Regions from separate parts of the Homo sapiens genome. Here region 1 is linked to region 2. The links come from fine-mapping of genetic effects on gene expression. Tissue or cell type: whole blood. Region 2 holds a variant in brackets; the other region holds the start of a gene. All regions are shown on one strand. Distances are between the middles of the regions.

Region 1 (5,140 bases), 67 kb after region 2:
TACTTTAGGAAATGCCCCTTTTTCACATTTTATCGGCAGGTGTTTCATACAAAGAATACAAGTAACTGATGAATGAAGGGGGCATCTTGTGTCCCCACAATCCTGCTGTGCGCACACCACAGGTGAGCCGTTCTGCCTAAGGGAACAGCCCCGGCCCCTCCCTCCGGCTCCTCCCCAGCACCGTCTCCTCCACCCAGTGGCCTGGCCGTGGATGCTGCCTGTGGCCCAGCTTTGAGACACCGCCCTGACACGTGTCCAGCCTTACGTGGAAGGATTTGTCTGTTTTGTGGCATCCTAGTAGATGCCACGTTAGTAGATGCCATGTTAGTAGAATGGATGTGGGCATTTCTTTGTAAGTTCCCAAAAGCCTATGAGGGTTTTTTCCACGATTCCGTTCCCAGTTTGGCTTTTGTTGTTGTTGTGGCTGTTCTTGGCCCCCCTGGGCCCTGCAGTGGAGTGGGGGGCTGCACCTGGGAGCCTCGAGCTGAGGCCCAGCCCCTCCTGCCCTGCATTTTCCTGCCAAGCAGCACCTGAGACTCTGAAGCCGATGCCTATACAGGCAGAAACCTGCCAATTCCAGCTTGAACGACTGGAGGGTCCTGAGGATGGGGGTCCCTGGGGTGCCATCATGGGCAGGGTGCATCTGTTTGGGTATGCTGCCCCCCAGCTGGCGGGGCACCGGGGACAGGCACAGCCACACTGGGGGCATTTCTGGTCTTGGAAGCCTTCTTGGCTCTTCCGGAGGGAAGGCGGCTGCTGGGTGCCCTGTGATCCACCCGCGAGCTGGGCTGTTCGGCTTGGTCTGCAGGGGCTGGGGGGCTGCATTTCTTTTCACCAGCTGCACCCACCCGGCCCCATCCTGGCTGGCACCGAAGGGAGCAGCGCGCCGTGACATCCTCCCCTCAAGCCTGGTGAATGGTGGTTCCATGAGGCTGGAGTCAGTGGGTGCCTGTTGTGACAGCTGGATTTCAGTGTTGGTACAGGAGCACACACCTAAGGGGCGGGCCAGTGAATGAGTGTGCGAGGGTGGGCTAGAGAACGAGCAAGGGAATGAGAGAGAGTGGGTTAGAGAGTGAGTGAGCCAGTGAATGAGTGAGTGAGCAGGAGTGGGTTAGAGAGCGAGGGAGTGAGTGAATGAGTGGGCTAAAGAGGGCCGGGCGCGGTGGCTCACGCCTGTAATCCCAGCACTTTGGGAGGCCGAGGAGGGCAGATGATCTGAGGTCAGCAGTTCGGGAGCAGCCTGGTCAACATGGTGAAACCCTGCCTCTACTAAAAATACAAAAACAAAATTAGCCAGGCGTGGTGGCGGGCGCCTGTACTCCCAGCTACTCAGAAGGCTGAGGCGGGAGAATGGTGTGAACCTGGGAGGTGGAGCTTGCAGTGAGCCGAGATCGTGCCACTGCACTTCAGCCTGGGAGACAGAGCGAGTCTCAAAACAAAAACAAAAAACAAAATTAGCTGGGCATGGTGGTGCATGCCTGTAGTCCCGGCTACTCAGGAGACTGAGGCAGGAGAATAGCTTGAATCGGAGTCAGAGGTTGCAGTGAGCCGAGATCGCGCCACTGCACTCCAGCCTGGGCAACAGAGCAAGACTCCATCTCAAAAAAAAAGTGGGCTAGAGAGTGAGTGAGTGAATGAGTGAATGGGAGTGGGTTAGCGAGGGAGTGAGAGGGTGAATGGGAGTGGGTTAGAGAGGGAGTGAGAGGGTGAATGGGAGTGGGTTAGAGAGTGAGGGAGTAAGCGAGTGAATGTCTCTTGGTGCTGCTGTAACAGAATACCTGAGCGAGCCTGGGTAATTTCTAGGGAGCAGAGTTCTTTCCCAGCTGTGGAGGTTGGGAGTCCAGGGTCATGGTGCCAGCAGGCTTGGTGTCTGGTGAGGCCTGATCTCTGCTTCCAAGATGGCGCCCAAACACTGCATTCCCCGGAGGAGAGAGGGGAGGAAGGCCACGTGTCCACATGGCAGAAGGCAGAGAGGAATCCATGCCCAAGCTGTCTTGACAGCTACAGGAGTTTGTCTGTGAGGGCGGGGCTCCCATCAGGTTCCACCTCTCTACACTGTTGCTCTGGGGAATGAGTTTCTCACTGTGAATCTGGGGGGCACATTCAGACCCTATTGTGGGTGAGTGGGAGAGCATGGCTGTGTCACTGGGACAAGTGGCCATGAGTCGGGGGAACTGAGGGGTTTTCAGTGTCCTCACCCGTATGTGTTGTGGCACCTGTGCCAGGCACCAGCGTTCTGCCCTCCCCGGCACAGGCGCATCACCGAGTCCCAGGCCCGCCTGCTGGGCATTTTCCTGCCAAGCAGCACCTGAGATTCTGAAGTCGATGCCTGGATAGGCAGAAATGGGCCGGCAGGAGGCTCCTGACAGACGGGTCTGTGCAGTGCCAGCGCAGGCAGGGTGCTGTGGCCAGGTCCTACACCTTTATGGTCAGGGTTCCAAGACGTCATGAGACGGCTTGTTCAGCCAGTTAGTTGTCGGTGCCCCTCTGAACAAGGACCCCCCCAAGGAAGGGGGTGGCCTCGCATGGGTGGCTGGGGATCCTGCTCCGTCCCACATGTGGCCAGCATGGCCGACACTGGCATTTCTCAGCTCGACAACAATTTTTCTGACTTTGGATATTTTCTAGATTTTGTGTTGTAAGAAAAAACACTTGGCAGTCAAATACTAGGCAGATTGAAATGCTGACTTTCTCACTGTTTCATTTTGTGATTGAAGTGCGTGCAAAACACTCAATCTGGTAGGGATGATGCCCGCGCGGAGCTGACCCTTCTCCTATTGTTTTTCCAAGCTGGAGAAGAAGCAGGCGCTCCCTCCATTCCAGCCACAGATCACAGACGACTACGGTCTGGACAACTTTGACACACAGTTCACCAGCGAGCCCGTGCAGCTGACCCCAGACGATGAGTGAGTCCCACTGGGTGCGGGTCCCTGGAGCACCCCTCGGGCAGCCCCATGGCAGGCCGGCACCTTGGGCAGCTGGTGACCCAGCCTGCCCTTGAGTCCCACCCGCCTGGTGTCATCTCTCCAGTGGGCGTTGGGGGAGGATTCTTATGCGAACGTGACTCCGCTTCCCCCAAGGGAATGAACACACGGTCACCCCCCTCCCCCCTGCCACCTTTGCCCACAGGGATGCCATAAAGAGGATCGACCAGTCAGAGTTCGAAGGCTTTGAGTATATCAACCCATTATTGCTGTCCACCGAGGAGTCGGTGTGAGGCCGCGTGCGTCTCTGTCGTGGACACGCGTGATTGACCCTTTAACTGTATCCTTAACCACCGCATATGCATGCCAGGCTGGGCACGGCTCCGAGGGCGGCCAGGGACAGACGCTTGCGCCGAGACCGCAGAGGGAAGCGTCAGCGGGCGCTGCTGGGAGCAGAACAGTCCCTCACACCTGGGCCCGGGCAGGCCAGCTTCGTGCTGGAGGAACTTGCTGCTGTGCCTGCGTCGCGGCGGATCCGCGGGGACCCTGCCGAGGGGGCTGTCATGCGGTTTCCAAGGTGCACATTTTCCACGGAAACAGAACTCGATGCACTGACCTGCTCCGCCAGGAAAGTGAGCGTGTAGCGTCCTGAGGAATAAAATGTTCCGATGATGTGGAAGCTCCTCTGATGCCTTTTTTCCGTGAGTGGCGCCTGCCCCACATCTCAGACGCAACCCACACGTAGGGGGGCAGCTTAGGAGCCAGCGGGACACAGGTGGGGGCGGGAGTTGAAGTACCTGTGGGGACACACCGCAATCAAGAATTGTTTCCTAAAAACCCCGGTAAGTTCCTGTTGTTCTTCCTGCAGAGTGTGTCCCAGCCGCTGTGGTCTAGGGTGAAGTGACACCTTAAGCAGATGGCAGCTGGGCCAGCCAGCTCACTGGACCGATGGGGGAAATTGGATCATAGAGATTCTAAAACGTGGCCCACCAAAGCACAGTAGACCAAAAAAGAGAAAAAACTGAACACTAAATCTGCACAAATCATTTCTGACCACACTAAGCAGTGCCTGCACGATGCCTCGTGCGACGCATTTGATTTTTGGAAGATATTCTTATCTGTCACACAGCACTGAGAGTTAGGGAAAACTAAAAGATGTGCATGTGACGGACCCCAGCCTTAAAGTTGAACGTGATGACCCTACAAACACCCAGAAACACAGGCACTCTTCCCAGCGGCGCGGACCTCCTGCTCCCGGGAACACACCCGCGCTCTCCGTCCACCCACCCCTCAGGTGAAGGCACAGCTGTCCAGAGCTGAGGCTTCCTAGAGGCAGGGCTGCCAGCTGCCAGGTGTCAGGTGTGGCAGAGCCGTCTTCTGAGCTCCCTGGGAGAGGGGGTCGCGCCACCTCATGCCTCTGAGTGAGGCCTGGTGCACAGGTGTGGAAATTGCCACGCAGCCCTCTTGGCCAGGCGCAGAGACCCCAGGCCTCCATGACTCAGGGGCCGCTCCACCCCATTGTGCGGCTGGTGGCTTGGGGAAGAGAGACGTAAAACCCCAAGTTAGGAGGTCTGTGCCGCGCCTTGCCTTGCCTCAAGGTCATCCCCAGCAGGTGAGCGTGGCCCACCCTACACACTCAGGTTTCTCAGGGTGCCACTCCGTGCCTGGCGCTCAGCACGACATGGTGGATTCACACCCAAGCCCCAGGTGCCAGGACAAGAATGCCAGCGCTGGGCATACTGCCGGCCCATTCCCCCCGGCCCGAGACCCTGGACACCCGCCCCCCCCCGGCCAGCTCAGGCTTCTAGGTGGAATGTGGAGACGGGTTTCAGCCACACTCCCAACCTTAGCTGTTGAGACTCAACTCCAAAGACGGAAAGTTAGAAACCCCAGGGCAGAGTCCAGGAGCCGACCTGGGTCTCACACAGGTGTCCCAGACCAGCGTGGGGATGCCCAGGTGGCCAGGCCCAGCCTGCGGCCGCTGAAGTTACACCTGCCGGGTGAGTAGGGCTGCCGGGACCCCACCTTGAGTGGGAGACCCCCAGTGTATCCCAGAAGTGGTTAACAAGCAAACTGCTTTCCATGAGCCTCCTTGATTTGTTAAATATTGAAGGCACTTACCTAAATACTGCCGTGTTGCCAGTAGCGTGCCGGTTACCAGTTTGGCCGTTCTTGTACACAATATGTGAGTAATGCTGTGCTCATCAGAGGGGAGA
Region 2 (5,140 bases):
CCTGCCGTTGGGTTTCAGCTTTTCTTATGGAAAGAATGTTACGGCCTGGGTGCCTCCATTCTCTGATTTCTTTTTCTTTCTTGACTTTTTAAAATTGAAACAAAACTCCCTAAAACATGAAATCTGAAGCGTTCAACTCCACGAGTTTTTACAAAGCAAACTGCACCGCGTCACATAGCTGATCCGTGTGTAGCTTGTCCTCTGGACGCGGGGCCACCCCCACACCCCGAGGTGACCCCAGGCGTAACCTACCCGTCCCCGGCCTTGGTGCCTGCAGATAGTTTTGCTTGTTTCGAGCTTTTGTCTTGGGATCCGGGGCCATCCACCCTGGGTGTGGCCGCTCAGTCGGGCCCCTGTGTGGGGCTTTCCCGTGGTGTGGGGTGCGGTTCTGCCGTGTCCGTCCCCACTGCGGGGCTGCTCTGCTGGCTGAATTCTCCACGTCTTATGTATCCACCCTCATCTTGCGAGGCACCGGGGTCCCGGCTTTTGGCCACAGACATCCGAGCGCCTTCTGTTGCCCGTGGCGCATCTTTCATGTGGGCACACCCAGGAGTGGAGTTTCCGGGAAACAGACGTTTCCCTCGCGTGGCCGCACCAGGTCGCACTCTGCACTGTGTTTCTGCCTCCAGTTATGTGGGGTTTTCTGCACCCACAGCCACTCTGGCGCCAGCTGGGTGTCCTGTGTTTCCATTCAGCTCTGACATCAATTACCTGACGTTAGCGCAGACCCTGCAGATGAAGGGCTCATTCCCACAAGCCTGCCCCTACTTGAGAGCCAGCTGCAAGTGCCAGGTGACAACCTGGATTCTGACCAACTGGCTGTGAATCGGGGGTGTCCGTGACCCCTTCCTGAGGCTCGGGTGGGCTAGAATAGCTCCCGGAACTCAGGAAAACACTTTGCTTAGTGTACCCGTTTATTAGAAAGGACAGCCACACGGAGGAGCTGCACGGGAGGCTGAGGTATGGGGGGTGCAGAGCTTCCGTGCCCTCTCCAGGCACGCCACCCTCCAGCACCTTGGTATATTCACCAACTCGGACACTCTCCAGACCATGTCATTGAGGGCTTTTTGTGGAGGCTTCGTGACAGGCACGGTTGATTCAACAGCCAGCCACTGCTGATTACCTCAGTCTCTCCTGTCTCCTCTCTGGACCGTGGGCTGTGGGACGGAAAGTTCCAACCCGCTAGGCATTCCTTGGTCCTGCTGAAGACCAGCCGCATCCTGGAGCTGTCCCGGCTCCCGGCTCCCCGTCATCTCATTAGCATGCAAAAAGACACTCTTACCGCACTCCAGGATTCCTAGGGTCAGAGGGGCTGCGCGCTGGGAAACTGAGACAAAGGCTGAATCTGTGTTGATGGCACAGTCACTCTGGGTCGTGTGGGAATTCCCGATGCACCTCCTTCCAGCACATGGACTGTCAGAGCCCTGCGTTGTCGCCAGCACAGCAGATCTGAAAGGCACTAGGCTGTGGCCTCGCGACGGCTGAGGTGAGCTGCTTCTCCGAGGCTCCCGGGTTATTGGGGACCCTCCTTTTAAAGGTGCCTGTTCCAGTCTTTTGCCCCATTTCAAAATTGGGCTGTCAAAGAACAATGTCATTGGGGGGTCCGTCTTTTTTGTTGGTTCCTGGGGGCTGTGTGTGTTTTAGAGACAAGTGCTTTGATTTTTTGTGTTGCAAACAGCTTCTGTCACTCCGCGGCTCGCCTTCCACTCCATGGATGGTGTCTTCTGATGAACAGAAAGTAAAAGCTTACTTTATAATTAGGGCTTTTGCGTCCTGGCTGTGTGTGGGGCCTCTTTCTGGACTGATCTGTCCCCTTTGTTTTTTGCCCCCATGTCGTACTGTTCTGATTTCTTCTGCTTTATAATCACCATTGGTAACTTGTGTTATGAGTCTCCAATTTGGGGTTTTTAGTTTTCAAGGTTATCTTGGTTATTGGCTTTTTACATTTCCATACACATGGGCTTGTTAATAAGCCATTTACAGTTGGCTTATTTGCTTTCAAAATCTCCATAAGACATTTGGATTGCATTTGGATTTCTTGATCAGTATGGGAGATTAGCATCTTTACAATACTGAGGTTTCCAATCCGTGAACATATCTTTAGGCCTTTGATTGGGGTTTTTTTGGCAGGGGAGTTGCGGGGGGCAGACAGGACCTCACTCTTGCCCAGGCTGGAGTGCAGTGGCATGATCATGGCTCACTGCAGCCTTGACCTCCTGGGCTCAAGCAATCCTCCCACCTCAGCCTCCCAAGTAGCTGGGACTACAGGTGTGCACCACCATGCCCAGCTATTTTGGCATTTTTTTGTAGAGACAGGGTCTCCCTATGTTGCCCAGGCTGGTCTTGAACTCCTGGGCTCAAGTGGTCCTTCTGCCTCAGCCTCCTAAGGTGCTGGGATTACAGATGCAAGCCACTGCACCCGGCCTTAAATTCTTTCAATAATATTTTGTAGTCTTGTGTGTAGCGGTCATCCACATTTTTTGTTCAAATGATTCCCTGGTATTTCAGTGCTTATGCTGTTTTAAGCCGTATTACTTTTACAGTTTTTTTTTTTTTATCTTTTTGTTTATAGCAATGTGTAAAGAAGTGTGATTAACTCATTTGTCTTGGCCT[C/T]TCCTGGTCCCCGTAGTTTGTCTGTGGTTGCTCCGGAACCTCTCTGTGCGCTGCCATTTTGTCAGTGACCGGCTGTTTGTTTCTGCCTTTCCTTCAGATGTTGCCTTGTTACCCTGGCACTGTTGATCCTTCCAAAACAGTATGGGACAGAAGTGGTGACAGCCACATCCTCTCGTGCCTGATTTCAGGGAAAAGCTTTAAGAATTCCACCATTAAGGGTGCTGTTTGCGGAAATACTGTTTTTCCTTCGTAAATCCCCACCAACAAATTAAAGAGGTTCTATTTTATTCCTAGTTGAAAGTTGTTAATATGAATGGTGCTGAATTTTTTCAGATGCTTTTTTTCCTTCATCTATTGATGTGACAGAACTTTTCTCCTTTATTCTGTTCATACGATGAATTCTATGGATTGGCTCTTAATGGTAGACCGATGGCATTCCTGTAGTGTGCCTCGTTTGGTTGTGATGAGTTCGCCTTTTTATATTTTGCTTGATTCAGTTTGCTATTATTTTGTTTGTTGTTTTTGCAACTGTATTTATGAGAGAGATTAGCCTATTATTTCTTTTTTTTTTTTTTTTGGAGTCTCACTCTGTCACCCAGGCTGGAGTGGAGTTCAGTGGCCCGATCTGGGCGCACTGCAACCTCCGCCTCCCTGGTTCAAGCGATTCTCCTGCCTGAGCCTCCTGAGTAGTTGGGATTACAGGTGTGTGCCACCACGCCTGGTTAATTTTTGTATTTTTAGTAGAGACAGGGTTTCACCATGTTGGCCAAGCTGGTCTTGAACCCCTGACCTTAGGTGATCCGCCCGCCTTGGCCTCCCAAAGTGCTGGGATTACAGGTGTGAGCCACCATGCCTGGCCATATCTTCCTTTTGATTGATGCTTTTATCATCATGAAATGTTTTTGTTTTTTTTTTTTTGAGACAGAGTGTCGCTCTGTCCCCCAGGCTGGAGTGCAGTGGCACCATCTCCACTCACTGCAAGCTCTGCCTCCTGGGTTCACGCCATTCTCCTGCCTCAGCCTCCTGAGTAGCTGGGACTACAGGTGCCTGCCACCGCGCCTAGCTAATTTTTTATATTTTTAGTAGAGACGAGGTTTCACCGTGTTAGCCAGGATGGTCTCGATCTCCTGACCTCCTGATCCGCCTGCTTCGGCCTCCCAAAGTGCTGGGATTACAGGCGTGAGCCACTGTGCCCGGCCAAATGTTGCTCTTTAGATGAAAATATTATTGTCATTAACATCTGATCTGTATGATGTTAGTGTGACCACACCAGCTCTGTGTGTGTGTGTGTGTGTGTGTGTGTGTGTGTGTGTGTGTGAGATGAGGGGAGGGAGGGAAGGGGACTTAGTGTTTATATGCTCTATTTTTTCATCCTTTCACTTTCTTTTCTGTATATTTTGGAAATGACTCTTAAAAGCAGAAGTTAGTTATTTTTAATCCAGTCTGAAAATGGCTGTGTTTTAAATGAAAGATTTAGTCCGTTTACATTTAATGTCATTCTGATGTGTTACATTGTAGCTTTGTCATCTTGCTATGGGTCCTTATTTGTCCGGTCTGTTCTTTGTTTTGTCCCTCTTTCTTGCCTTCTTTTGGTTTAATCAGATGTTTTTATTCCACTTTCCTCCCTTTATTATTATAGCTTTGTTAAGTAATACTTCTCTTAATGTTATTTTAATGGCTACCTTAGAAATTATGAGTCACATCCTTGGAACGTAGCATAAACTACTTTTACCATTTTCTTCAAAACCTTATAACAGTTTAATTCTTATTTTTTCCTTTTTTTTTTTTTTTTTTGAGATGGAGTGTCACTCTTGTTGCCCAGGCTAGAGTGCAAGGGCGCGATTTTGGCTCACTGCAACCTCCACCTCCTGGGTTCAAGTGATTCTGCTGCCTCAGCCTCCTGAGTAGCTGGGATTACAGGTGCCCACCACCATGCCCAACTATTTTTTGTATTTTTAGTAGAGGCAGGGTTTCACCATATTGACCAGGCTGGTATCGAATTCCTGGCCTCAAGTGATCTGTCTGCCTTGGCCTCCCAAAGTGCTGGGTTTACAGGCATGAGCCACTGTGCCTGGCCTAATTATTCTTCTTTCCTTATTGTTAGTTTGTGCTATTATTTTATCAGTCTTTGTGCTGTTATTATCATGCCTGTAAATTCTACGTGTATTTCAGACCCACAAACCAAGTGTTGTCTTAGACAGTGGTCCTTCAGATTTACCCCCAGGTTACCCTTCTAGTCTTCCTGCAGGACGGCGCTTACATGGAGACCAGCTTCCTTCTGCCTGAAGTAGTCCCTTTAGTATTCCTTTCAGCACAGACTTGTAATTAATTCTTTTTATTTCTTTTCTTTTCTTTTTTTTTTTTTTGAGATGGATTTTTGCTCTTGTTGCCCAGGCTGGAGTGCAGTGGTGTGATTTTGGCTCACTGCAGCCTCCACCTCCCAGGTTCAAGCGATTCTCCTGGCTCAGCCTCCTGAGGAGCTAGGATTGCAGGTGTGCGCCACCACGCCCAGTTGTTTTTTGTTTGT

Evidence for each region. PIP is the estimated chance that this variant, and not a neighbour inherited with it, causes the effect.
Region 1: it holds the start of PRKCZ-AS1, and the variant in region 2 is fine-mapped to the expression of PRKCZ-AS1 in whole blood (TOPMed, PIP 0.93).

What each region holds. Positions count from the first base shown.
Region 1 is chr1:2,181,793-2,186,932 of GRCh38, forward strand. PRKCZ-AS1 (PRKCZ antisense RNA 1) reads right to left here and starts at 2,083. Exons shown (of 2, transcript NR_146290.1): 1 at 1,779-2,083; 2 at 2-949. PRKCZ (protein kinase C zeta) reads left to right here. Exons shown (of 18, transcript NM_002744.6): 17 at 2,791-2,906; 18 at 3,130-3,603. The coding sequence ends at 3,217. It also overlaps a transcript of FAAP20 not described here.
Region 2 is chr1:2,114,825-2,119,964 of GRCh38, forward strand. All of the region lies in intron 4 of PRKCZ (protein kinase C zeta), which reads left to right. Among named protein-coding and RNA genes, the nearest start is that of PRKCZ-AS1, 66 kb to the right of the region's middle. The variant C/T (reference allele first, on the strand shown) is at 2,614.